4 linked regions of the Homo sapiens genome follow. The protein of the gene in region 2 interacts with the protein of the main gene of each other region in a pairwise test. Each region holds a gene or a part of one and is shown on either strand. Other genes may lie near its edges. The genes, in order: HRG, RCHY1, KLHL41 and JPH3.

Region 1 (7,107 bases), on a different chromosome or scaffold from region 2:
TCTGATCCACCTGACATTCACCCCATTTCCCCATATTTTCTCCTTTCCTGTTCCTCACCCTGATCACGCTTGATTTATTGATGGCAGTTCCACCAGGCCTAATCGCCACACACCAGCAAAGGCAGGCTATGCTATGGTACAAGCCACTAGCCCGCCTCTTAGAACCTCTCATTTCCTTTCCATCGTGGAAATGTATCCTCAAGGAAATAACTTCTCAGTGTTCCATCTGCTATTCTACTACTCCTCAGGGATTATTCAGGCCCCCTCCCTTCCCTACACATCAAGCTCAGAGATTTGCCCCCACCCAGGACTGGCAAATTAGCTTTACTCAACATGCCCCGAGTCAGATAACTAAAATACCTCTTGGTCTAGGTAGACACTTTCACTGGATAGGTAGAGGCCTTTCCCACAGGGTCTAAGAAGGCCAACACAGTCATTTCTTCCCTTCTGTCAGACACAATTACTCGGTTTGGCCTTCCCACCTCTATACAGTCCGATAGCAGACCGGCCTTTATTAGTCAAATCAGCCAAGCAGTTTTTCAGGCTCTTAGTATTCAATGAAACCTTTATATCCCTTACAGTCCTCAGTCTTCAGGAAAAGTAGAATGGACTAATTGTCTTTTAAAACCTCAGCCACCAACTTAAAAAGGGCTAGAAAAACTTTTACCTCTTTCTTTTCTCAGAAGTCAGGCCTGTCCTCAGAATGCTACAAGGTACAGCCCATTTGAGCTCCTGTATAGAGGCTCCTTTTTATTAAGCCCCAGTCTCATTCCAGACACCAGACCAACTTAGACTGTGCCCCAAAAAACTTGTCATCCCTACTATCTTCTCTCTAGTCATACTCCTATTCACTGTTCTCAACTACTCATACATGTCCTGCTCTTGTTTACACTGCCAGTTTACACTGTTTCTCCAAGCCATCACAGCTGATATCTCCTGGTGGTATCCCCAAACTGCCATTCTTGAAGTAAATAAATAATCTTTGCTGGCAGGACTACGCTGAATCTCCTTAGGCACTCTAATTAGATGTCCTAGGTCTTCCCAATTCTTAGACCTTTAATACCTGTTTTTCTCCTTCTCTTATTCCATTTAGTTTCTCAGTTCATACAAAACCATATCCAGGCAATCATCAATAATTCTAAATGACAAATGTTTCCTCTAACAGTCCCACAATATCACCCCTTACCACAAAATCTTCCTTCAGCTTAATCTCTCCCACTCTAGGTTCCCACGCCGCCCCTAATCCCACTCGAAGCAGCCCTGAGAAACATCGCCCATTATCTCTCCATACCATCCCCCAAAATTTTTGCCATCCCAACACTTTACCACTATTTCATTTTATTTTTCTTATTAATATAAGAAGACAGGAATGTCAGGCCTCTGAGCCCAAGCTAAGCCATCATATCCCCTGTGACCTGCACATGCACATCCAGATGGCCGGTTCCTGCCTTAACTGATGACATTCCACTACAAAAGAAATGAAAATGGCCTGTTCCTGCCTTAACTGATGGCATTATCTTGTGAAATTCTTTCTCCTGGCTCATCCTGGCTTAAAAGCTCCCCTACTGAGCACCTTGTGACCCCTACTCCTGCCTGCCAGAGAACAACCCCCCTTTTTCCTTTACCTACCCAAATCCGATAAAACGTCCCCACCCCATCTCCCTTCTCTGACTGTCTTTTTGGACTCAGCCCGCCGGCACCCAGGTGATTAAAAGCTTTATTGCTCACACAAAGCCTGTTTGGTGGTCTCTTCACACGGACGCGCATGAAAGATACCATCTGTGTAAAGTCAGCACTTCCATCTGAGGCCACTCTCTAGTTCCCATAATGCTAATAGGAACCATCCCCAAAGCCAAATATCACTTACTGGATCAGAGTTCTCAGGACAGAATGTCTCTCTTACTACCATTCAGCTTCCTCCCAACCATTACCATCCCAGCACCCTTAATGTGCTCTCTCCCCTGAAGCTGCTCCAGTTGCTAGAATGGCATCATTAGTACTGTATCACTCTTTAAGATTCAGTAAAGCAACAGGAAGAGGATGCATGACTCCCTGAGGTACTCTGTAGTCTCAGCAGAACAGCACTGTAGGAAAATTATATTCCTGTTCTTGATGCCTCTTCCCATCCCCTCAACATTCCCATTCCTTTCCCTACACCAGCATTTGGTTCACCCAGGACACCCCATTTAGGGTGCAGCCAATATAGCCATAATAGAAAAACTTCATTAAGGAGCTCAACTCATAATAACAAAAACTCAAAATAGTTTTTGTTTTAATCAATAGCTTTCCCCTTCCCCACTGGGTTGGAGCCTCTTAACACCTTGACCAGATTCCATACATTCCTGTCATTTTCTGTTGCACTGGACTGGTCCCATTGGGTATTTAAAAGCCAGGGTTACTGACATTAAAAGTTCAATTGCAAACATTATTCAAAACCTGTTGCACTCATTAACCCTGTGACTTGTGGAAATGAGATCTACTTTTCATACACCTCCCTTTTCTTTCTGTCTTCAAATCCTTTCCCTCTCTTCAGTTCACTCTAGAATCCCAGTAATTCTCAACCTTGACTGCACACACTGGATTACCTAGGAGTTTAAAAACTACCAATACCAAAGTCCACTCCCAGAGATTCTGATTAAATTGTCCTGGAGGAGTCCTTGACATCAGGACTTTTTAAAGCTCCTGGGGTGATTCTAACATGAAGCCGAGTCTGAGAGACATGACTGCAGACTCTCACAGACACTCACTGCGGATAGAACAGGGAGGAATGGAGATGCTGCCTAACTGGCTGTTTCTTGGCAGTGAGGACGGAACCTAGGCTGATTCCCTCTGGTCCCTTCTGATGCTGCTGGCTCTGCTGGTCTGAGGGTTGCATATAGGTATACGGGTTTCTTCTGAAGTGTGAAGGTAGGGGGTCAGCTGTATCATAGCCCAGTCCCCCCCTGCTGATCCCTTCTAACAGTGGGATGGGCATCCAACTATTTGACTCTTACTCTCACCACCATCCTCTTCCACGTGAATCAATTCTTTTTGCAGGGAATTGGGGTGGCATGAGGTGTCCCCAACTTCTTTGCAGGCACACTAATAATAAATAGCATCACTTATTCAGCATCTACTCTATGCCAAGAATTATACTGGTTGCTTTCTTTTTTTCTTTCTTTCTTTTTTAGATGGAATCTCACACTGTCGCCCGAGCTGGAGTGCAGTGGCGCGATCTCAGCTCACTGCAATCTCCGCCTCCCGGGTTCAAGTGATTCTCCTGCCTCAGCCTCCCAAGTAGCGGCGATTACAGGCATGTGCCACCATGCCCAGCTAATTTTTTGTATTTTTAGTAGAGACAGGGTTTCACCATGTTGGCCAGGCTGGTCTCAATCTCCTGACCTTGTGATCAGCCTGCCTTGGCCTCCCAAAGTGCTGGGATTACAGGCATGAGCCACCGCACCCAGCCTGATTTCTTATTTAATTATCACACAAGCCTGCCAAGAGGTATCAATCCATATTTCGTAAATGAGGGAACTATCAGAGAAGTTTTGTTGCTTACCCAGCATTACACAGTAAGAAAGTAATAGAGCCAGGTGAGAAATTCAGATTTGACTTCAAAACGACAGCCTCTTCATTGTTCTATTTTACCTGAAGTCATTCCTTTTATAATGGTACCTGTTTAACATGTTCCCCCGCTTAGATAATGCAGCTGCCTTCTACTGAGGAGTTTTAGTGCCATGATCCATCAGTCCACTGACTGATGATGGAGATTTCCAGCTGAGACAGGCAGGCAGATGGAGGAAAATTACCCCTAGCCCCACCCCCTACACCAACATAGGCACTGCTTATATTCAAAGACGTACTTTAGATCTGCTATCTACTAGAAAAATCCAGATTTGTGCAGATCACAGTTCCACCCACTCATCAGCATTTCTCAGCTTTCTGCCCCCAGGACCCACTAATCATTTACAGCTTGTTGATGGTTATTTGAACCCAGGGTCAAGGTGAACACCCTCAGTTACACAACAAAAATGTATCAAGGTTTTGTTTAATCAATTGCGTGTGTTTCAGAAAGTCTGTATAAAATTCTCTGCAGTGGCAGATCATAGCAAGGGATGGTTTAACAAAATGAAGGCACTCATTGCAGCACTGCTTTTGATCACATTGCAGTATTCGTGTGCCGTGAGTCCCACTGACTGCAGTGCTGTTGAGCCGGAGGCTGAGAAAGCTCTAGACCTGATCAATAAAAGGCGACGGGATGGCTACCTTTTCCAATTGCTGCGGATTGCTGATGCCCACTTGGACAGAGTGGTGAGGAATTGCCAATGGCAGAGCTGAGTTGGGAGATTACTCACGGGGGCAAATGTGACTCTACCCCCTAGGCTTACTGCTTTGCACAATGAATGGCTTTGGTCAGAGTTTTTTGTTTGGCTTCTGCGGCTGCTCTAAATTGTTCTTTTTTCCTTCAAACTAATATTTGTTATTAGTGTACCCGCAACTATGATTCGATTTGTGGGTACATATAAGCATTTATGCTGAGCCCAGTTACATGCTAAGGACTGCCAGAGAAACATTAGAATAAGCTATGGGCCTTGGCCTCCAGGAAATAATAATACACTGGCACATACAGGCAAACAGTGTAAGTTACTAGGATAAACTAGAGAGAAGGAAAAGTTTTCTCAACCCTCCTAAGGCTCCTAACTGAGCCTGAAATAAAACTGGTAGACAAGGCCAGGCGCGGTGGCTCACGCCTGTAATCCCAGCACTTTGGGAGGCCAAGGCGGACGGATCATGAGGTCAGGAGTTCAAGACCAGCCTGGCCAACATGGTGAAACCCTGTCTCTACTAAAAATACAAAAACTAGCTGGGCATGGTGGTGCACGCCTGTAATCCCAGCTACTCAGGGGGTTGAGGCAGAAGAATCGCTTGAACTCGGGAGGCAGAGGTTGCAGTGAGTCGAGATCATGCCACTGCACTCCAGCCTGGGCAACAAAGCTAGACTCCATCTCAAAAAAAAAAAAGAAGAAGAAGAAAACATACAAATTTATTTAATCCAAGGTTTACCTGACACTGGAGTCTTCATAAATGAAGACTCAGATATCCAAAGAAACTGGCCACTTGCATACTTAGAATTCACAAAGGCTGTGCAGAATGCAGAAGTGTGATGGGACAAAAGGCTGTAATCTAAGAGTCATAGACTGAAAGAAGGACCCAGCAAGGCCTCTCTGTTTGAGTTCTTCATGGCCTCTCTGTGTGGCATTTCTTGCTCCCAAGTATGGGACAGGATCCCTTTGGAATGCGGATCTGAGGACCTACTATCAAACAGAGTAGGTCAGAGAATGTCTTTATGGCCAGCTCCTACAAAGAAAGACACAGGGGGAAGGTTAGATTCATATTTTAGGATTTATGGATGCTTTCGGGGAGAGGGATTCTACCATCTGTGACTGTCCTGGAGAAGAGAAATTTTAGTTTCTATGGCTTGCCTTGGGGGAGAAAGCAGAGTAGGAGAACAAAGGGCAGAAGGTCAGACAGATCTGGCTTCTGAGGCCCTTCCCATTTTCTTCAGTTCAAAGGACTCAGCACGCCAAAAGTACCATACTTTGAGATACCATGTTCTGAGCCCCAACAATAGCCAAGTGACCAAAGGAGTGGTAAATGTACTGGAGCAATTTAATGAGGGGAGATCTAGTAAGACTGGATGGGAGGAGGCTTCTGCTGTGTAATGATGCATGGGTAGGATTTGAACAGGTCTGGGTAAATGTGTTCCTGGTGAATTCCTGGCACCACCACTTCTAGGTGGGTATGGAATCAGGAAGAAGGGTGTTAGGGAGCCATTGAATATAAGCAGGTGGGTTCCAGAAGTTCCATGTGGGCTCTGGAGCAGGCATCAGGTAGGAGCCAAGCCTGTGGGCTTGTCTTGAGGTGAAACAAGCTTACTGTCTTCGCTTAGATTACACGCCTACCTAAACTGGACTAGAGGAGCCGATAGACATTATAGAGAGACATGAAGCCTGCCTCTAAGCTCCCCAAATAACCTACTCTCCCTCTGATGGAAAAACTGAAATTAGGGAGGCCAGACAAGGAGTACTACAGAGGACAATTTACCCTTCTGAAAGTATCACAGAGGGAGGCACTGTGGGTTGCAGAGAACAGGTGTGCAGGAGTTTAGGATTCAACCAGTAATTCAGTGACCATTAGTCCCATGCCAGGCTCATCAACACATGTTAGGGCATAGGATGCATCAGCACAGAGCTGCCTCTGAGAGCTAGCATAGAGAGCGGGTGGATGGGGAGGGGTCCTGATGTGCCTGGGGAAACTGAGGCAAGAGACAGGGACATGAAGTAGAAAGCTATTTATGTATTCAGGAATGAAAGAACAAGGGTCAGACCTGGGTTAGTGGGAGTCAGGGCAATGAGACTGAGGAATAGACATGAGAGACGTTGCCAAGAAAGACCATTCAGGGCCTGGTACTGGATAGCAAAAGCAAGGACAAGGAAAACATCTCGTAGGTTTACATGTTTTACCCCAGAGTCTAAGGCAATATGTTGTTAGTGGTGCCACTGACAAAGACGAGGGAAGTGGAGAGGGCAGCTAGTTTGTAAGAGAAGAGAGAGGATTTAGCTTTGGGCAAAGCAACATCAAAGCAGAAAATCCCATGATCAGTAATAGAGCTGGGCAAGAGGACACAACTACAAGGACAGATTGGAGGCCCTGATGAGGTCGTCATGACTTATACTTCCAGGCATGCGTAGGTGATGATGCCTCCGCTAAACCACCACTGCCGTTTAGTGATAGCTTCTTCAAGTTTATGGGCAGAAGACAAATCAGGACCACTTAAAAAGATTTGGAAATAACTCATTGAAGCTATGTATTGGAATCAATAGATCAAATGACGCAAAGGTAGAGCATCTGCAAAGACAGTGAGAGGAACAGGAATTCTGTTTAAGTAATAAATATATAGCTTTAATACATAAAAAAAAACCCGCTAGGTTTCCATGTGCTACTCACATGTTGCTTTTGGCATTCCTCAGGAAAATACAACTGTATATTACTTAGTCTTAGATGTGCAAGAATCGGACTGTTCGGTCCTATCCAGGAAATACTGGAATGACTGTGAGCCACCTG
Region 2 (7,025 bases):
TTTTTTTTTCCCGATCTGAGCTACTTAACTAAAATTTAAAAATCATTTTGTGCTTTCCATTAATCATCACATTAGCATCTGTGTCAAACCAGTATATATATATTTTTTTTTTGGCAAATTCAAGCAGGAGGGCAAAAATAAGAGTGCCAACAAGGAGTCTACAAAGTTTTAAGTATTGATTCTACTCACATCCACAGTCATGTTCTGATATTCTGATGGCATAGGAGTCTGTGCTACTTCATCATCCAGCTGTCTCCAATACCTGGTCATATCTAAAGCAGAGTGCATACATAATGGACATCTGTAGCCTCTGAAAGAGATAGAAAGGTTATTTTCCAAATATTAAACAAGAATATATTAATTCAGGTATACAAGAAGATGCAGGCTAACTGCCACATGAACCATTCAAAACAGGCATTTTCCTCCATTTCAAGATAATCTCTTAGGAACCTGGGAACTTTCACACTATAAAACTTTTAAATTAATTCCTGTATACTTATTTAAAACTAAGTCTTTTTCCTCAGTACTCTAAAATGGAGAGGAATTAGTCCATATTCTTTGTAGAATACACTTCATATATTTTTATAAACTAATTAAGCTACTCCTTATCTAAACAACCTTAATTTCTTAATACACTCATGTAAAGAGACTGTATTTGTTTAAAATTATTCAGATATTATTTCCTTTCTAAAAATTTGAAAAAAAGAATGCTCTCTCTAGCTCTTCACATTTTTGCTCATCAATATGTAGGACCAAAATACAGTCTTCTCTTTTCAATTATTTTCATCTAATTTTAATATCTTTTCCATTAATAAAGTCTTAGCTTTAATGATCACTTCACCTACTTTCTTTTAGTTTACTATACTTGGCCAATATAACAACCTAACAAATTTTTGGCAATATTTTTCAGCATTTTTACAACACTATAACTGCATCTGGCAAAAACTGCACTTCCTGGTATATATGGCCAGAAAAAAAAGAGGTAACTACCTCAAATTGTGGGAGGAGACAAGATTTAAGAGAAACATATGGCAAAAGTGTAGTTCTATATCCAAGACACTTTGTCCTGTTTTAACAATATTCATCTACCCTACCCATTTCAATATAAATATTGCCATGCCCAATATAGTATAAGTAACAATGTTTGTCCACCTCCCCACACCACACACACAAAAAAGTCAAACATCTTACAATTATTTTTAAAATCCCAAACACTCACTCTTTCAACATTTCTTCATAACACGTTCTGAAAGAAAATATAAGATTATTTTAGTAAAACAAAAACTGTCTCCACTATTTTCAAACATCATTGAGAAAAAGATGTTACTTTACCTATGTAAAAGATGTCCACATGGCAAGACATGAGCAACAACACGGGATGTGTGAATGTCCTGTAAATGAAATAAATGTTAGTGCTTGTATGAAGACAATATAAACATCCAAGTATTTTAAATTCAAGAGCTGAGACTTCCAAAGTAAAAAATATTTTAAGCCTACCTCCAAACATATTGGACAATTCTGTCGGGACACATTTTCAATACACTGTTTAAAAGAGAAATTCACATTAACAAAAGCTTAACTAGATTAAAATGTCAGGTATAAAAATATTAATAATAAAAATTAACAAAACCAACTTACTAAAAATAATAGCTAACATTAATATATGCTTTTTATATGTAAGAAGAGTTTTTTAATAGTTATTTAAATCTCACACTATTTCAGGCTTGGCATATTATCTGATACAATGAAAATGTCAATAAACATTATTGAGATTACCTTCATTTCACAAATAAGGAAAGTGACTTAGGAATTCAAGACACTTACCCAAGATCCAAAGATAATAAGATTTGGAACCTTTGCATATTATGTATGTTTTACTCCAAAGCCAGTGACCTAAATTAGTAAGCTCAACTTACTAATAATATTGGTAATAATAGTTCATATTATTGAAATTTACTACATGCCATGTTCAGCACAGTACCTGTATAAGATCAATTAAATCTCACAATCCTAGATGAAATAGGCTATGATTGTTATACCATTTTACAGTTAAAGCAGTGGAGGCCTAGAGAAGCTAAGGAACTTCCAAAGTCACACATTAATAAGAGGCAGAATTAAACTGGAGCTCCAGCAGGCTAACTTCAGAGCCAGAGTTCTTAATTTGACAAGATGTAATGTCTGATTAAATCCAAGGAGGTAAGGGAAAGCACTGTGCCATGGAAGACTCCCAGGTTTTTAACGGAAGCACTTAATAGATGGCAGGACCACTTAGTAATATAGACAATAAAAGATAACTGAAAAACAACATAACAAAAAAAACCATAACAAAAAAATAGATGTAAGTTTTTGAAAGATGACAGTATAGTGGGGAGAAAAACCCTCAAAATAATAAGCTTAATAGTAAGTTTAAAAATCTAGACTGTAATCCTAGCTCTGCTATTTACCAGCCCTTGAGATTTTGGACTAGCCACCACTTTAGTCTTAACGTTTCTTATTTATAAAATAAAATTAATACATATTTCATTTGATTCTAAAGTGCACCTCACACATACATTTTAACATCCCCACAATTACAACATATCTGATCATCAGTGGCATCTCTGAGTTGATGGAATGTAAATGCTGAGGTGAGGATGCAATGAATTAGTGTGTGCACACACACTACACATGCTTTGGAAACCAGAACATCATAGAAATGTAATCTATAAGATACTATTGACTCCTGGCTATCTCCATTAGCATAGCTTGCCATCACCCCAAACTCAAGTTTAAAAACCAAACTCAATCTTTTATCTTCAAAAAATTTACAATCTACTAATCAAGTACCTTAAGCTGGGGCTGAAAATCTTCAGAGTCATCTTTACTCTGCCTCATTCTTTTTCCTTAATACCATTACCACATCATATATGTTCATTATTCATCTCAATTTTCCTCACCACTTTACTATTTAGGCCAAGTTCTAGCTAATATTATATTTCTGCAATAACTTCTTATTCTTATATTCTATCGAACCTACTATACTGCTAAGTAAATGATTTCAAACAGTCTCTTTCCAATTAATGTCTATCTGTCTCTCTCTCTCTCAACAGCTACAATGTTGCTACTTATACTGTTCTGCCTTATCTGGAATTTCCTATACTTGAACAAGTACGATTTACACTTCACTTTACACCAATCCTCCATTCTCTTAATTAAATTCTTACAGTAGATAGAATCAGTACTATAATGTAATACTTTATTAGATTTTTTTTTAAATAATGAAAAAGGGCCTGGGATTGTGACATAATTCCTACATCCAGATTTAAAATATGTATGTCTTAATTATAAAAAGAAATAGTAAAATATTTTCTGAATTTTCTTAGAATGTTGTGCTAATTAGGTTACACCATTCAGTATTTCTCCTGTTTTAAAGTTATTCTTAAAAGCAGTACCAATGGTAAGAATCCATAAACTAACTTGGAAGTTGCCAACATTATGCTAGTAAGTGATATAAGCATTCTTACACTACAGAGAAGAAAAGGAACTGTAGGTCAGATATTCTGAGGTACATATTTTAAAATATCTACTTGTTAATACTGCTTTTCAAAAAAGCAATATAGTTGCACTTGGAAATACATGAAAATTAGCATGCTTCCAAAACATATTAGAAGTTAAGCTTATTGCAAAAACACTGTAATATTTTTAAAATTATACAAACTAAATTATATACCTTGTGTCTTCCTTGAAGATTCATAGCTAGGCATAAGTTACATTTCAAACAATGGAAAAAATCTTCCTTTGGACCAATCCTAGCAAAACACATGAAAGCCAAAAGATTAGATTATTTTTTACTACAGTCATGATTTGTTCATTATGTAAAACACAAGTTTAGTCTCTGTAAAAAAAATTTCCAGCCACAATGGAGAATATGGGATAAATCCCTATCTCCCCAACATCCCTCTCCAAATGTAAGCACTATACACAGAGTGGTATCTACCCTTCTAGGGCTTTTTTTTCTTTTTCTATAAAATTGCAAAAAGAGAGAAACACAGACACACACACACATTTCGGGTTTGATTTCTTACATTAATGGATTCTTTCTACAGATGCCATTCTGCAACTTTTTTTCACTTGATATATTCTGAGGATTTTATGTCTGTCTACACAGAACCACTTCATTCTTCTTAATAGCTACATTAATGGCATGGATGTATACTAATTTTTTTAAATATTCCCTCAGAAAGATCATAATTTATGATCTTTAGTTGCTACAATGATACAGTAAACATCCTTGTCCAGACATCACTTAGTTCACATGTTGATTATTTTTTACGAGATTCCTAGAAGTGAAACTACTGAGTCAGAAGATGTTGCAACATTAATTGTGATACTGCCAAACTGACCTCCAAATAGACAGTACCAATTTATACTTCCACCAACACTGCATGAGAGTAACCATGTTCCCCACACTTTGGGTAACATGGTTACTTGTATTATAGACAAACAAAAGATGTCATTTTAATTTGCATTTCACAAATAATGAGACAGGGACTGTACATTAATGAACTACTTGGATTTCTCTGTGGATTGTCTGTTCATATGTTCTGTCCATTTTTCTACTGAAGTATTTGTTTTTAACCAATTTACTGGTAAAAAATATATCATGAATATTAGTTATTTATATAATGAATATCAATGTTTTCATTCGCATGTATTATATTTATATATCACCAATATCAATTTTTTATTTGCATATTTTATATTTACTTTTCTGGTCTGTGATTTCTCTTAACTTTGTCATATAGCCATTTTTAATTACTATGTGGTAAAAAGTCATCAATATTTTCCTGTATAGCTTATGCTTTCTGCCTCTTGTTTAGGAAACTTTTGTAACCTATAGATCATAAACAGACTCTCCTATGTATACTTCTAGTACTTACAGCTTTTCATTTTTATATTTTTCTTTAATCCATTTGAAATTTGCTATATATGGCAAAGGTTAGATTGCTACTTGTCCCTAAATTTCTATTCTCCACTTCTTCTACAATGATAGGGTATTTAGCTAGGCACTGAGCTATTCAGAACTGTCCTGAATAAAGACTATTTTCCAACATACCTGGACGTTGGGAACAGAAGAGATACATGAAAATTCTGCATTGTACCCTCAAGAGGAAAAATATGCCTTCCCTTCACCTAACTAGCCTTTCTACAGACCAGAATATGAGGCATTTTAGACTACAGAGACAAGAAAATATCTTATGGGTGACAAGGCAAAAAACAAGAAGAGCCTGAGTTCCTGTTTAGCTACACAACTCAGATTTATTTCCATGAGAAATGAACTTCTGCCTTTCTTGAACCACCATTACTTTGGGTTTCTGTCACAAGATGCTAAATCCATACTCTAATGAATACAGTTTGAAGAGTCAATTTTTGGTTTCCGAATGGATAATCAATTATCTTAATACTACCCTTTCCTGATTTGAAATGTCACTTTTGCCATAAATTCATATGTATAAATATTTGTCTGTGTATATACACACACACATATTTATCTATTCGTCTATTCCTGCACAAACAGCAAACTATTTGAATTACTATAGCTTTATCATGTTTTGATATGTGGAACGGCAATCCACTCTTCGTTGTCCTTCCTTCAAAATTTACTCAGCTATTGTGAATTTTCTCTTACAAATGAACTTTAGAATAGGCTGTCAAACTCCATAAGTAAAATTCTGCAGGGACGTTTCCACTACTGCCAAAGATAGAATAACGGAGATCAGACCTACCCTCCCATCTGAAAAAATAATGACAAAAGACAGAATATATGAAACAGCAGTTTCACTGAACATCAGGCAACAACACAGAGTGATCTGTGAGAGATAAGAAACAAAGTAAGTGAGCCCTAAAATTGCTCATTTATTGCCTAGAGAGTTTTGAGGCCAGGACAGGTTAGAAGAACTAAGGGTGAGCTAGGAAGACATCATGATTGAAATGATGAGCTGAGACAGTCTAGAGAAACCAAGACAGATTCATAGGACAGAGCATCAGATAGGAGAGAGCTGCACAGAGAAACCTCTGAAATATTTAGTAGGATACCCATCAGCACATGGATGTAAGAAAACTACCCAAAGCCAGGGAAACAACCTTCTAAAGAATGAGAACAGTACTACTCACACATGGCTAGGAACAGTGCCTGATCCCATCAAACAGACTGGGGAAACTCATAATTCGCAGGCTCCGGGTGGAGTATTCAGAAGGATATTGCCTCAACAGTGGAGAATAGCCCTGGGATAAGCCCTTCTGTAGATCTACCTAACAAATTAGAAAAGTAAATCCCAGAAAGTCTAAACTGTTTCCAAGTAACTTAACTGCATCCCAAAATAAAGCTCAAGAAGATTTATAGGAATACAAAAATACCCAGCACTAAACATGATAAAAAGAAAAATCACATCTGATATCCAACCCACAATAACCAGGCAACAAAGAGGCAGAAAAACACAACCTAAAATGAGAAGAATAATCAATCAATCAACCCAGAACAGACACAGATGTTAGAATTAATACAGGGCATTAAAAGTTATTATAACTGTATACCATTACATTAAAAAAGTATTAAATATGAAAAATATGTTTAAAGACCCAGATCAAACTTCTAGACATAAAAACTACAATGTCTGAGATTTAAAAATACACTGATGAAACTAATGGCAAGTTTGATATTGCTAACAAAAAGGTTAGTCAACTTGAAGGCACAGTAACAGAAACTATCCGAAATGAAATAGGAAGAAAAGGGAATTTTTTTAAAACGACAGAGCATGAGTAAGCTGTGAGACAACTTCAAGCAACCTAACATACATGTGTTCAGTTGAGCCTAACGCTGCCTCCTACATATTTTAAGATCGTCCTAAAAGGCTTTGCTGTACATAGTTAACTGTAACCTAACTGGATGTGTTTACCTACAGTAACCTACTCTAGTACCAATCAATCACCAAGTTTCATCCAATCACAGGCAGTCCTCGGTTCAAACTGTGTTTAAATAAGGCAAA
Region 3 (7,333 bases), on a different chromosome or scaffold from region 2:
TATCCTGGCATACCGTTCTATTAGTGCCTTTTAAAAGCAGCAAGGCATTTGCTTTGCTGACCTTCCAACTTTGTATAACTGTTATTGTTAATGTTCTGTTATACAGAACATTAAGTAGGTTTCTTGAACCAAAAATGAGAAGCTGCGTCAGTAAAAGTAAGGGTTTTATTAGGCTGGAAGAGGACAAAGATTAAACTGAACACTTGAAAGTAAAAAGGACCGTGTTATAGATATATTCAATAAATTAAATATGAAATGAAATTTAAAACTCCAGTAATTTTGGAGAATCATTCCATGGCAACAACTATTCCGTGGATCTGTCATTTGTAGGTATCTACCTATATGTCTGTCATCTGTCTATCTGTGTTTTTATAACATTCTTACTTCCTGGATGTATTTATAGCCTTTTTCATTGACTTTGCCACTTTTGACGTTTATTTGACTTTAAAATTAGGGCTTGGGAAATTTTCTGACCCACATTCAAATACTTATAACATTCTTCACTGGAACTTTGAAAATTAAGAAACATGATTAATATGTATTATCACAACTACATTTTTCAAGATTAGAAAAAGTTGATTAAAGGTATAATAGTATTTTGTGAATGCAAAGTATATCACACACTTTGAGAGCATACTGTGACTGTGGTATGACATTGTATACTTGCTTATCTTTGGCCTTTCCAACTAAAGTGCCCATAAGCCCCAGCCATGATTAGCTATGACCTAAACAAACTCTTTTGAGCCAGTTGTAAGCTATAAAGTTTCGGTATTGGCATTATGGAAGACAAAGGTTAAGCCAACTCCTTCATAAACTGATAAAGTATAACACATTGATAATATAAGACAAATTCCTTTCAAACAACTAAGGGTATATTGGTTTAGGAGAATTAATTTTCTTGGAAAATTCTGTGGTTTCACAAAACAGATTGTTAAGTTCTAATAATGTCTAAATGTATCTCTGATCCAAATAAATGTGATATAATAAAAATTTCTAACTATAATTAATTCAAATTAGCGACTTTTGTGTAGACAGTTTTTCCTAGAAGATAATCCAAAGTGTGTGGAATATATATACAAGTTTTTTTCATTTTCAACAAAATTATATTTTAGGCAGTAACCATAAATAAGAGATGAAGTGCTACCTCCAAGAACTTCAAATGAAGTTCAGGGAAACTTGGAAGAAGGTAGAAAATCTGACCAATTTAGAGCTGCCAGCAGATGAAGAAGAAAAAGAAATTAAAAAAGAAAATCTGACCAATTATTACTTCTTTATAATGGATAAGAACTTTGATTTAGGGAAACTATTTGGGGAAAGACATTAACTATTTTTAATAGGTAAGAGTATACAAGATTAAATTTAGTTTTTACAGCAGGGGGTGGTGGCTCACACCGGTAATCCCAGCACTTTGGGAAGCCAAACTGGGAGTATTGCTTGAGCCCAGGAGTTCGAGACCAGCCGGGGCAACATAGTGAGAGCCCATCTCTGCTAAGAAAAAATAAATTTAGTTTTTACTAAAATACTGGGCTTTGAGGGATTACAGTCACGATCATCTATAAACAAGGCATTTTTGGTAAAATAGTATAAAGAACATCTTAAGTCATTAAACATGAATTAGAACCTCATTATTCACCAAACTTTTTATTACACATTAACAAAGCAGTCAAATATTTTTCTGTCAACGCTCTATACAGCAAAAGTGCAAGGGACTGGAATAGGACATCAATTAGAGTAAAATGCAAGCAGCTTGAATAATTCACAAATTGGCTAACTGGATGGTGAGTAACAGCCTTCCCTTTAAGCAACTACATATACAAAAAGTCCTTCTTACCTGGAAGAAGTATGACTGTAGAGGTTGATCCTTATTTTCTTCATCCACATATAGTCCTCCTACCACATATATCTGATTTTGCTGGGTAACAATGCTGGAATGATTTCTGGGAATCTGCTCAGCCAGTGCAGTAAGGTAGCATTCATTTTCCGTGGGGTCATAAGCCACTGCTGCTGTGTCATTAACCAAGAGGATGAGGTCTTTTACAAACATTCCATGCCTGGGAATGTCATTCAGGTAACCAGGAAGTAAATCTTCATCACCAACATCACCATTCACCTCACCAGCCCCAGTCTTCGCGGCATTTTTGCTAGGTTCTGGGAGTTTGCCTGCGAAAGCATCTTTTAGAACTTTGATTTTTTTCTGGAGGTCTGGGTTGCTTTTAATTATATCATCTTTCTCAACATGATCCTTAAAATATTTTTCTGTCATAAGGCGAAAACGGATACAATCAAACACTTCACTAAGGTTTTTAACCCTGTTTTCCTTGTCTGTTCGCACCCATTTCATCACTGCCTCAAATACTGCTTCTTCTTTTTCTACATTTAGGCTGTCATTTGAAATGACTGAGATCAGTTCCTGTGGAGACAGTTGCATAAAGTCCTCTTCCTTACAAATCTGTACAAAGCGATCAGACACAAATTCACGGGCAGAAATGGCGAGTCTCGGGCAGTCAAGAAGAAGTCCTAATCTTAGGATGGCTAGACAGTTACCAGGAGCAAGTCTTTTCTGAAGATAAGAAACGCAGACAGTAAACACTGAGGGGATCTGAAAGCGGCTGGCCAATGCAAAAATATCTTGCACATTTCCGTCATTGAGATCAATACTGGCAGAGTACAGGTATTTGATGATTAAATCAAGTATAGCAGGATCCACATTGTCTAGCACTACCTCCTTTTTTTTCGCCTCATCAATTTCAGATAAAAAGTACTCACGGAAGTAAGGACTACAAGCTGACAAAATCAATCTGTGGCAAGGAAGACTTTTGTCACCTGCTTTTAGGGTGCAATCGATGAATTTTTTCTCATCCAGGAGATCTTTTAGACCATCCTGAAGAAGGGTGGATTGGTAAAGCCGCAGTTCCTCTGCAAGTTCCCGCTGGGAATCCATTCTGTGAGAAACCTGGGTAAGGAAGGGGACACTGAAGGCCTTAGCTCCTTGCAGCACACAGGTCTAGCTGTAAAAAGGCAGATCAGTGTGCTTTGCCCAGCTTGAAGCCTTTGCAATTTAATCCCACTAGCTAAATATAGATACCAACTCTAACAACGGGAATTTAGGAGAGCTGGCTTGGAAAGAAGAGTTGTTCTTGCAGCTGTTATAGATTGAAAGTAACAACTGGAACTTTTAATCACTAGGGAAACAGCTAAGAAACAAGACATTTAAGTGAAGTTGAAAGCTTAAAAATACATAACACATTAGAAGATATACTAATAAAGGCTACTACAAGAAAATGTTTATTGAATTAACAGAAAAATGAATCATAAAAATGAGTCACTCCTCTAAATATGTTCTAGTGTCAAGCTACTTGGCTCTCTGAATTAATGATGCAAAGGTCAAGAATATGAGATGTGTTCATTTGAATACTCATAAGCAAGATCTCATTTCCAATAATTGTTAACATACAAATTTTTACTTTCTACTCAGAACAGTGGGATATAGATATTTCTTTTAGAAGTAGTAAACTTAAAGATGTTTACTTCTGTACTAGTTTTACAAAACCTTTAATGTTGCCATGATAATTGAAAAAAGAAATGCAGAGGAATTGCTAATTTTCTAAAACATTCCAAATTATTCTTACATGGAAAAACTGTAATTAATATTGAATTAAATTATAAAATTATTTATTCATATCCTGCCTTGTCATACAAATGATCTAATGTGGCAAACGATAATAAGGTAAAATAAAAGCAAAAGGTTAAAAGGAATCACAGAGCCAGAAAAAATAATTAAAAGTCAATCTAGGGAACGAAAAAGTCCACACACATTCAAATAAGATCACAAAAGATAATCTGTAATTTTAAATATCAAAAATTATCATTCATTAAATAAAACGTGAAAAATAGAACAGATATAACCCCATGAGAACAATGTTATCACTAAACACAGCAAAATCAAGATGAACTCCTACAATGGTCATAGAGAACAGCCCCCCCTTTTTTTAAAGAGTATATAACTGGGGACATAACGTAGGCTGTTGATTATAATAGAATACCATATTAATTATGGAGGTAGAAGTAATGATTTGAAAGAAAATCGGTCCTTTGTTTATATATAGATGGTATAATATACTTCATTAAATACTTTCATTTATTTATTTATTTTTGAGACAGAGTCTCGCTCTGTCACCCAGGCTGGAGTACAATGGCGCAGTCTCGGCTCACTGCAACTTCTGCCTCCCGGGTTCAAGCAATTCTCTTGCCTCAGCCTCCCGAGTAGCTGGGATTACAGGCACCCGCCACCATGCCTGGCTAATTTTTGTATTTTTAGTAGAGACAGGGTTTCATCATGTTGGCCAGGCTGGTCTCGAACTGCTGACCTCGCGATCCGCCTGCCTCGGCCTCCCAAATTGCTGGGATTACACGTGTGAGCCACCGCACTGGGCCCATTAAATACTTTATTACACAGTCATATTGTCACATTATCTGAACTCAAGTAGGGCTGTAGAAATACTGTAATTTCAAAAGTTGGTATTTTTACACATACCCCCAAAAACAAATTCCATGAAGACAGGGATTGTGGGAGTGTCTGTTCTTTTCAAATGCTATAGCGTAGGGGTTTCGTGAGTGCTTTATAAGTATTTGTTGAATGAATGAATGCCCCAGATCAAGGAATTATGTATTTTTAAACTTCAAGGTCTCTATCCATGAGTAAAGGCCTTTTCTTTTATTTTACATCACAGTGAAGTCAATGGTACTGTCAGCTGCTAAAACAACAGCTGAAAGAAGAGCTCATTGACTCTTTTTCCATTTATAGATGCCACTAAAGGTTTTAACACACCAGAAAAAACTAACAGCTGCTTCCTTGTTTAAACAATAAATGACTCATTTCTCTCTACATGTAACATCTAACATTTGAAAAGATTAATGAGTCAGATGCAAACATCATATGACATTTGAGATTATTCCTTACTAGTCAGCAATTTTATAGTCTCTTTTGCTTGAAAAAAACAATATTTAAACAATAGTTATGGCAGCATTTTATCTGTGACCAGTACAAATTTTTCATACATTCTTTCCCCTCGTCTTAAAGGTGGTTTATTATAATTCCAACCCTTAAAATGTAGAAATCCTTTTCCATTTAAATGAAGAAGCCAATTTGTAGCTTTTGTTGATTTTTAATAAACTTAGGTTAGCACTTGGTTGTACTGTATGTCTATGGTTGTACACAGACTTGCATCTTATTTTAAATGTTTTTACATACTTTTCCCTCTGGAAGAAGAGGGCTCCTTTGGCTAATTTCAATTATTTGAAAAAGATTCCTTACAATGTGTTTTACACGGAAACAGTGGTCAAAAACACCGAATGATCCTAGAGAGGTCAACAAGTCTTACCTAACCAAGAAATGAGAAAAATAATATCCTATTTTTGAAAATTCAAAGAAGTTTCAATAAATACAAAGAGAAAGTTAATAAACAAAGCTATTTTCTTACAAAGTAAATGTATTCTTGCCAAAACTACATTGAAATTCTTACAAAATAGCATCCAAAGCACTTTAAAGGGGGGGGTTGATGTATTCCAGAGTTAGTTGTAATTTTTAGTTTTTACAAAAATGACAGGTTTAAGGATTACAATTTGTATTAGAGTTGGTTTACATTTGGAGCTATGTGATTATTTATTTATTTATTTATTGAGATGGAGTCTTGCTCTGTTGCCCAAGCTGGAGTGCAGTGGTGCGATCCTTGGCTCACTGCAGCCTCCACCTCCCAGGTCCAAGTGATTCTCGTGCCCCTCCCAGGTAGCTGGGACTACAGGTGCCCACCACACGCCCAGCTAATTTTTATATTTTTAGTAGAGACGGGTCTCACCATGTTGGCCAGGCTAGTCTCAAACTTCTGACCTCAAGTGATCTGCCTGCCTCGGCCTCCCAAAGTGTTGAGATTATAGGCACGAGCCACCATGCCTGGCCAGGAGCCATGGGATATTTAAACCAGATTTTTACAATTAAGAAAGCAGAATTTTGATTATTCCGTAAGAATAGTCTTTTTCTTTTAAATAATACTTTCAAAACGTTAAATGGTGCTGCATAAATTCTTTATTAAACCGAACATGATACAGTCACTTAATGTCTGAAAACTAAGACTTTACAGGTATTAAGTACAAAATAAACATTTATAAACTAGGTACATTTTGATTACAATTTTAAATATAATTTTTAGAAAACTGAAGTTTTTTTTTTTTTATTATACTTTAAGTTTTAGGGTAAGAATTTTTCTTAGTACAGAACAAAATGAAAAGTCTCCCATGTCTACTTCTTTCTACACAGACACGGCAACCATCCGATTTCTCAATCTTTTCCCCACCTTCCCCCCACCTCCACTCCACAAAGCCGCCACTGTCATCATCGCCCGCTCTCAATGAGCTGTTGGGTACACCTCCCAGACGGGGTGGTGGCCGGGCAGAGGGGCTCCTCACTTCCCAGTAGGGGCGGCCGGGCAGAGGCGCCCCTAACCTCCCGGACGGGGCGGCTGGCCGGGCGGGGGGCTGACCCCCCCACCTCCCTCCCGGACCGGGCGGCTGGCCGGGCGGGGGGCTGACCCCCCCACCTCCCTCCTGGACGGGGCGGCTGGCCGGGCAGAGGGGCTCCTCACTTCCCAGTAGGGGCAGCCGGGCAGAGGCGCCCCTCGCCTCCCGGACGGGGCGGCTAGCCGGGCGGGGGGCTGATCCCCCACCTCCCTCCCGGACGGGGCGGCTGGCCGGGCGGGGGGCTGACCCCCCCACCTCCCTCCCGGACGGGGTGGCTGGCGGGGCAGAGGGGCTCCTCACTTCCCAGTAGGGGCAGCTGGGCAGAGGCGCCCCTCACCTCCCGGACGGGGCGGCTGGCCGGACGGGGGACTGACCCCCCCACCTCCCTCCCGGACTGGGTGGCTGCCGGGCGGAGACGCTCCTCACTTCCCAGACAGGGTGGCTGCTGGGCAGAGGGGCTCCTCACTTCTCAGACGGGGCGGCTGCTGGGCAGAGGGGCTCCTTACTTATCAGACGGGGCGGTTGCCAGGCGGAGGGTCTCCTCACTTCTCAGACGGGGCGGCTGGGCAGAGTTGCTCCTCACCTCCCAAATGGGGTCGCGGCCGGGCAGAGGTGCTCCCCACATCTCAGACGATGGGCGGCCAGGCAGAGAAGCTCCTCACTTCCTAGATGGGATGGCGGGTGGGAAGAGGCGCTCCTCACTTCCTAGATGGGATGGCGGCCGGGCAGAGACGCTCCTCACTTTCCAGACTGGGCAGCCAGGCAGAGGGGCTGCTCACGTCCCAGACAATGGGCAGCCAGGCAGAGACGCTCCTCACTT
Region 4 (6,952 bases), on a different chromosome or scaffold from region 2:
AGAAACTTGATCTTGGACTTTTAGCCTCAAAAACAATAAGACATTTCTGTTGTTGAAGTCACCCAGTCTGCGGTATTTTGTTATGACGGCCCTTGAAGACTAATACACAGGCAGACAGTGCTAGAAAGCTCACTGCATCACTGTAACTGCAGAAAACAAAACAAAGCCAACCGCCCTAAATGTCCCTCATTGACAGTGGGTGTATGAGGAGGTGACTGTCCTCCTGGCTGCTGGTACTCTGGGGAGGCGGCTTTGGTGCTCAAGCCAAGAGATTGAGGTTGAACTCTGGGACTCCCAGGAGGGGCTGATTTTCCTGAGAGCCCCGTGAGCAAAAAGTGGTAAACGTTTTCTGTAAAGAACAAGATGGTAAATATTTTAGGCTTTGTAGGCTATATGGTGTCTGTCACAACGACTCCACTCTTATGTTGCAGTGTAAAAGCCACTCTAGACACACAAATGAATGGCCATGGTTGTGCTTCAGTGAAATTCTGTTTATGAAAATAGGCAGTGGACTAGATTTGGCCTCTGGGTTATGGTTTGTGTGATGCCTGGCTTAAAACAACAATCTTCTTTTTTTTTTTTTTTTTTTTCAGAAAATTGAAATTCTGACAAGATGTGATGGGGAACGCTTGTCTCAGCTGCATGTGGCTTTAGCTGGGGTGACCTGCCTGGGGTCTGGAGGGTCTACTTTCAAGATGGTACACTTTTATGGCTGTCAAATGCTGCTGGCTGCTGGCTGGGAGTCTGGCTGGAGCTGTGGGTTGGAGGACCCTGTATCTCTCCTTGTTGGCACGTCCAGGGGCTGCTTGAGCTTCCTTACATCATGGCAACTTGGTTCCAAGCTTGAGCACCCCAAGAGCATGAGGCAGAAGCTGTGTTGCTGTTTATGAACTGACCTTTGAAGTCACATCCTGTCACTTCTGTGATAATCACACACTGGCCCAGATTCAGGGGAAGGGAATGCAGAGCCCACCTCTCAACAGAGACCTAGAAACGCCCAAATGGCAGTCCCACTTTGCTCCCCCAAAGCACTCCCTCAACAGGAGGGGTGTCAACACCACACTGGAAGAAGATCACGTGGAATGGGGGATCTTGTGGACATTTCACAGTGTTATGGTAAACACAGGCAAAGACAAGAAGGCAAGCACAGATAAGTTGATCGTGGCTCAGTTCTTTGAAGGAGATTAATAGGCTTTTGTGGGGATGCAGGGGGAGCTTTCTTTCTGCACTAGTCAGGAAGCCTCTCTGGAGCTGAGACCAGAAAGCTCTACTGTCATGGGAAGAGGCACCAGGCAAAAGAGACAGCAAGGACCCATGCCTGGAGGCCAGAAAGGGTGCAGGCTGGAAGGCCAGGCAGACTTGGGCTCGAATCCTGCCCAGTCATTATTTTCCCTCTGGCAAGGCACTTTACGTTGGTGGGGAAAAGTGATTCTTTTAAAAAGGAGAGTGTAATTCCAAATCACCTGAGTCCATGAGATGACTAATGTGCTGTCTTCATCCTAGTGCCTGGCTCACATGTGGGTTACAGCTTTTTTACCCTTCTCCCTGGTTTTTGTTTTTAAACGGCTGGGTGGTACTACGTTTATAGGCTTGGAGAGTTTCCTCCAAAGTGAAATCAATACTGCCAGCCCTACTTTATCGGGAGGGCGGTGATTTCCAAATTGCACAGAACAAATGCCTGTAATATCTGCATTTCAGAGACTAGAGCCTGTCACCGCTGGAGTAACTGACTGCAGGAGATGAGAGAGGGTCAGTTGGAGGTGGGGGTCTTGGAACTGCAAGGGAGCGGAGTGTACACTGGCCAAAGGTGGAAGGTGCTGACCAGTAACTGCTTGGAAGCAACCACCGTGTTTCAATAGGATCTCAGTTGCAATCCACTGCTTGTGTGAAGGAGGGCTGCTGATTCAGCAGCAAAATGGTTGGAAATAAAATGGAAGAAATGAAAAGTAGAACATACGAGTGGTGGCAATGTTTATTTCAACAGGCAGAGGGCTGGGTGTCTCCATGCAGGAATCCATGACCCTCCCTGGGGGGCTGGCTTCCAATAACATTACTTCCCACTTCCCGAGCGCTTACTGAGTGCTGGGCGCCTAGCTTTTGAATTCCCACGGTAACCCTATGGGAACTCTGCCATCTCCATTTTACAGATGAGAAAACTGAGCTCAGGGACATTAGGTGACTGCCCAAAGCCATACTGCTGGTGGGCCCCGGAGCCAAGGTTTCGACCCGAATCTCTTGAGGACAAGGTGCAGTTCCTTTGGCCCACACATTTACAACAGAGAAATTTCCATGGACATGAAACAGCCCAGAGATATTATTTCATACCCATTTAGATGAACAAAGTAAAATAAATGGAAAGAAAATCAGAAGTTTGAGGACACCAGTGCTGGCCAGGAAATAGAGAACCACAAACCCAGGCACACTGAAGGGTGAGAGGTCAGTTGCTCCAGGTGTTTGGAAAGCAATTTGGCAGCTTCCAATAAAGTCCAAGACGTAGCTGGTCCAATGATGCCACCGCAGACATTTAGAGAACTTCTGTAGAGGGGCACAGGGAGACAGCGCTAGAAAGCTCAATGAATCACTGTAACTGCACAAAACAAAACAAAGCCGACCGCCCTAAATGTTCCTCATTGACAGTGGGTGTATGAGGAGGTGACTGTCCTCCTGGCTGCTGGTACTCTGGGGAGGGAGCTTTGGTGCCCAAGGCAAGAGACTGAGGTTGAACTCTGGGACTCCCAGGAGGGGCTGATTTTTCTGAGAGCCCCGTGAGCCAAGAGTGGGGACCATCCTGATTCTCTCGGACAGGGGAAGATCTGAGCAGGGCTCCTGGCTGATTGGAGGCTCCGAATCGCACCTCTTCTCCTGTCCTAATCTCAGGCTCCAGGCCTGGCTTGCAGTTTCTGGCTCACCGCGCTGCGGTCACCGGCCCACACTCCCAGGAGCGAGGACCCTGGGCAGCCTCCACACCCCCATCAGCCCACTGCACCGGTCTGCTGCCATTTCCCGCACGCATTTCAGGAGGGCTGGGGACGCCGGCTTCTGCCTGAGGATTTATGGTCCAGGAAATGCATTTTAAATGGATCCCAGGATGCTCGGATCCAAGAATCAGACTCTCTCTTGTGCGTGGGAAGAGGGGCGGAGGGTGAGAGTATGTCTGGAGAGAGACCTAGAAACGCCCGAATGGCGGTCCCACTTTGCTCCCCAAAAGCGCGACCGTTCCCCGAGTGGGGGGGCGCTACCTGTTGGCCAGGGCGCAGGGCGCACGGAATTCGGGTGACTTTGCTCCAAGATACACGCGTGTGTCCCGACTCTCACTCAATTTATAGGGGAGAGGGACTCGCCAAATCCCTGTTTTCTGGGGTAAGCCCCCCTCCCCCCACTCTTGGACCCAAGCTGCCCGGAAGGAAGAAGGAAGCATTGTTTGTCACCGGAGAAAACCACCTGTGGTTTGCAAAGGGCCTCAGTCGAGTCAGGGGCAGGCGGGGCAGATCCGAGCCCGGCGGGAGGGGCGAGGCGCGGGGGCGGGCAGGGGCGAGGGTAGGGGCGCTCAGCTGGCAGGTCCTGCTCTGCAGGCCTCACCGCCCAGCTCCCGGGAGGGGGCCGAGGGCGCCCTGAGTGCTGCGCGCCTTCCCATGACGCAGTTCCTGTGCCTTTAAATCCCACTCCCGGAGGGGGCGGGGGCGCCCCGGCTGGACCCCGGTTTCCAGTCCGGCGGGGGCCCCGGGGAAGCCCAGGGCGGGGAGCGCGGGGCTGGGGGCGCGGAGGGCGGGGCGCCCGGGGTCCCCGCCCGCGCGCCGCGCCCTAGCCTGCTGGGCCGCGCCCCTCTTGGGACCGCCGCGCTCCGGGGGCGGGGGCGGGGGCGGGGGCGGGGGGCGGGGGGCGGGGGGCGGGCGGGGGCGCGCGGGCGGGCGGGGTGCGGGCGCGCGCCGCGCGGCCCGAGCGCGCGAGCCGGGCCCGGAGCGCACGCCGCCGCCGCCACCGCCGCCGCCGCCGCCCGAGCCGCCGCATTGCTGCTGCTGCTGCCGCCGCCGCCCCGCGCCCGGCCCGCGGCCCCCAATATGGTGCAGCCGCCAGCGCCGCCGCCCGTGCCGCCGCCGCCGCCCGCGGGCCCCGCCGCCGCCCTCGGGCGCCCGCAGCGCGGCAGCCGCAGGTGGGGGGCCGCGGCCCGGGCCTGAGCTGCCCCCCGCCCGGCCTCGGCGCGGCGCCCTCCCCGCGGGGCTGCCGGCGAGGGGCCCTCTCGCCGCTGAGGTGGAGCCGCGGGCCCCGCCGCCGCCGCTCCTGCCCCCTCCCTCCCTCCTCCCCTCCCCCTCCCCTCCGGTCCTGTCTCCAGCGGGAGCGCGAGACGCTGGTCAGGCTCCGCGGCGCAGCTCGAAAAGGAATAATCGCCCCCGATTGACTGAAATTCCTCCGGAGCCGGCGCCGCGGCCGCCCGCGCCCGAGACCGCGCTCCGGGGCCGCGTCCTCCTCTCCTCCGGAAAACGCTCGCGACCCAGGGCCGCCGGCGGCCGCGACTCTGCTGTGTCGATCGCCTGAGTCCGTTTTCACCGTTTGCGGGATCTGGAACCGAGTTACATGCATGTCCAGTGGGGGCAGGTTTAATTTTGACGACGGAGGGTCCTACTGTGGAGGCTGGGAGGACGGCAAGGCGCACGGCCATGGCGTCTGCACCGGCCCCAAGGGCCAAGGCGAATACACCGGCTCGTGGAGCCACGGCTTCGAGGTGCTGGGCGTCTACACCTGGCCCAGCGGCAACACGTACCAGGGCACCTGGGCGCAGGGCAAGCGCCACGGCATCGGCCTGGAGAGCAAGGGGAAGTGGGTGTACAAGGGCGAGTGGACGCACGGATTCAAGGGGCGCTACGGGGTGCGGGAGTGCGCGGGCAACGGGGCCAAATACGAAGGGACCTGGAGCAACGGGCTGCAGGACGGCTACGGGACCGAGACCTACTCGGACGGAGGTAGGTGCCGCGGGCCGGGCCGGGCCGGGGCGGGAGGGACGTGCTTCCGATCGCGCCCCTTCTGTGGATCTCTGGGGAAGTTGAGCTGCGTCCTCCGGTTGGGCCGTGGGCACCAGGGGCCTTTCCCGGGCTTCCCTGGAAGCCACGGCGGCTCCTGGCTACAGGTTGCCCCGCTGCCTGGTGGGGACAGTGCCCCTGTGCCAGCTGAAGGGTGTTGGGGGCTTTCCAGGGGCAGAGCCAGGCGGGGCCCAGCAGAGCCTCCGTGCGTCGGACACAGCAGGCCGGAGACCTGCGGGAAGGGCCAGGCTGGGCCCGCGGCCCTGGGGAACCCAGCAAGGGCAGAGGGGGCTGGGAGAAGGGCCCCTCCCCTTGTTGGCTTTGCCCCCCACCCTGGAGGCCGCCCTTCGATCAGGCCCCAGCTTCGCTTCTGGTGTTCCTGCGGCGCCCGAGGGCCTTCCTCAGCCCCGAATCTGCCCAAGCCGAGAGAAAGGGAGTGATGGGGAGCGCTAGGGGCGGGGGATGCCAACCCGAACCAAAACAGCCAGGCAGTACACTTCTAGGTGGTTGGACGCGGACTAGCGCTGTCGAAGCAGGCTGCTGGAGGGAGGAGGGAGGCCCATCTGCTCAGTGAGAGCCCAGGAATCTCGTCTTTCAGTGGCTGCATCGTTTTCACCATTAGTTGAGGGAATCGATCTGTGCCTTCATTCTAAGATGCCACCGCATTCGGGGCAGAGCCGGGGCCGGAAGCCAGGGAGCTGCCTGCTGCTGCTGCTGCTGCTGCTGCTGCTGCTGCTGCTGCTGTAAGATGGTTTCTGTGCAGGGAACCTTGGCCGGCTCTGCAGCTGCCCGCCTGCCTGGACTCTCCGATATCCACTCCTCAGTGCACCTGACACGCATGGAGCCGGTCCTTTCCTGGAAGCCAGACCCCAAACAAACTGGCTTCCCCGACCAGTCCACTCCCATGTGGGAGCTTATCCTCAGAGGCACTGGGTCCTCTGCCTCCCTCGGGCGGCTCGCCTGTTTCAGGCATGGATGCCTGGGAAGGGAGTGAGACGCAGCAATGACTTGTGCTTCTGCCGAGAATAAAAATCCTGAGCGTACGTGTGCTCTAGTCCTCCCCGCCCGCTCGCTGCCTCCGAGTCTCATGAAGAAAGCTCGGAACACCTGCTCCACGGCCACATCCAGGAGTGGCAGGGGGCTGGAGAGTAATTATTATTTTGGCTTATGCAACTGAAAAGCAGGGTTCGTTATTACCCGAAGAGGAGGAGGAGTCTGGGGCAGTTAATTATATAATGCTCCTGCCTGTCAAAGCCGTGCCCAGCCCCGGTCTCAGGCGGCCTTTTCTGTGCCGTTGTTGTTTTCATGGAGCAGGTTGGAGAGCTTCCCTGACCCTGGGGCGCTGAGGGCCGGGCGGGAGCAGACGGTGCTCCCTTGGTTCCAGGCTGTGGGCCTGTGTGTGTGTGTGCGCGCGCGTGCAGGCACAGGGAGGCCCGGGCAGCAGATGTGGGTGGCTGAGACAGGCAGGCAGCCTGGCGCTTCCAGCTGGGCTGTTTGGAGCCCAGGGGCTGCTATCACCCCCAGGCTCTGGCCAGGAGGCTCTGCAGACCTGTCCTCCAGAGGTGCTCCTGGCTGAGCCTGCTCCAGGAGGACTGTGCAGGCCGGGCTCACGCAGGGCATGGGGACGAGAGGAGCCAGGGCTTTCGTTGTCTCTGAAACTCCTCAGAATATCTGGGGGTGAGGCTGAGCACCCCACTCTGCCCACGCTCCTCAGACATCTCCAGAGTCCTGAGGAATCATTTCTTTCATTCAACAAATACTGATGGAATGTTTGCTATGAGCCAGGTGTGCCAGGCTCTGGGAAAACCACACTGAGCAAAGCAGACAGCCAGGTGTCCTAGGCTTTGGAAAAACCACACTGAGCAAAGCAGACACAGATCTTTGCCCTCACGGAGCTTACATTTGAGGGAGAAGGAGCGGCGATTATGTTGTGACTT

Evidence for each region.
Region 1: the proteins of RCHY1 (region 2) and HRG interact in binary tests that used the Homo sapiens proteins (3 or more experiments, as listed by UniProt).
Region 3: the proteins of RCHY1 (region 2) and KLHL41 interact in binary tests that used the Homo sapiens proteins (3 or more experiments, as listed by UniProt).
Region 4: the proteins of RCHY1 (region 2) and JPH3 interact in binary tests that used the Homo sapiens proteins (3 or more experiments, as listed by UniProt).

The regions. Positions count from the first base shown.
Region 1 is NC_000003.12:186,661,922-186,669,028, forward strand, and holds the start of HRG (histidine-rich glycoprotein precursor), read left to right. Parts: upstream 1-4,092; 5' UTR 4,093-4,110; coding exon 4,111-4,293; intron 4,294-7,013; coding exon 7,014-7,107. UniProt on the Homo sapiens protein: Plasma glycoprotein that binds a number of ligands such as heme, heparin, heparan sulfate, thrombospondin, plasminogen, and divalent metal ions. Binds heparin and heparin/glycosaminoglycans in a zinc-dependent manner.
Region 2 is NC_000004.12:75,490,392-75,497,416, forward strand, and holds part of RCHY1 (RING finger and CHY zinc finger domain-containing protein 1), read right to left. Parts: intron 3,789-7,025; coding exon 3,710-3,788; intron 1,543-3,709; coding exon 1,498-1,542; intron 1,392-1,497; coding exon 1,333-1,391; intron 1,247-1,332; coding exon 1,220-1,246; exon of another isoform or gene 1,192-1,219; intron 311-1,191; coding exon 190-310; intron 1-189. UniProt on the Homo sapiens protein: E3 ubiquitin-protein ligase that mediates ubiquitination of target proteins, including p53/TP53, TP73, HDAC1 and CDKN1B. Mediates ubiquitination and degradation of p53/TP53; preferentially acts on tetrameric p53/TP53.
Region 3 is NC_000002.12:169,505,387-169,512,719, reverse strand, and holds the start of KLHL41 (kelch-like protein 41), read right to left. Parts: upstream 3,019-7,333; 5' UTR 2,942-3,018; coding exon 1,832-2,941; intron 1-1,831. UniProt on the Homo sapiens protein: Involved in skeletal muscle development and differentiation. Regulates proliferation and differentiation of myoblasts and plays a role in myofibril assembly by promoting lateral fusion of adjacent thin fibrils into mature, wide myofibrils.
Region 4 is NC_000016.10:87,598,571-87,605,522, forward strand, and holds the start of JPH3 (junctophilin-3), read left to right. Parts: upstream 1-3,937; 5' UTR 3,938-4,576; coding exon 4,577-4,958; intron 4,959-5,518; coding exon of another isoform or gene 5,519-5,589; exon of another isoform or gene 5,590-5,669; coding exon of another isoform or gene 5,670-5,848; exon of another isoform or gene 5,849-6,058; intron 6,059-6,952. UniProt on the Homo sapiens protein: Junctophilins contribute to the formation of junctional membrane complexes (JMCs) which link the plasma membrane with the endoplasmic or sarcoplasmic reticulum in excitable cells.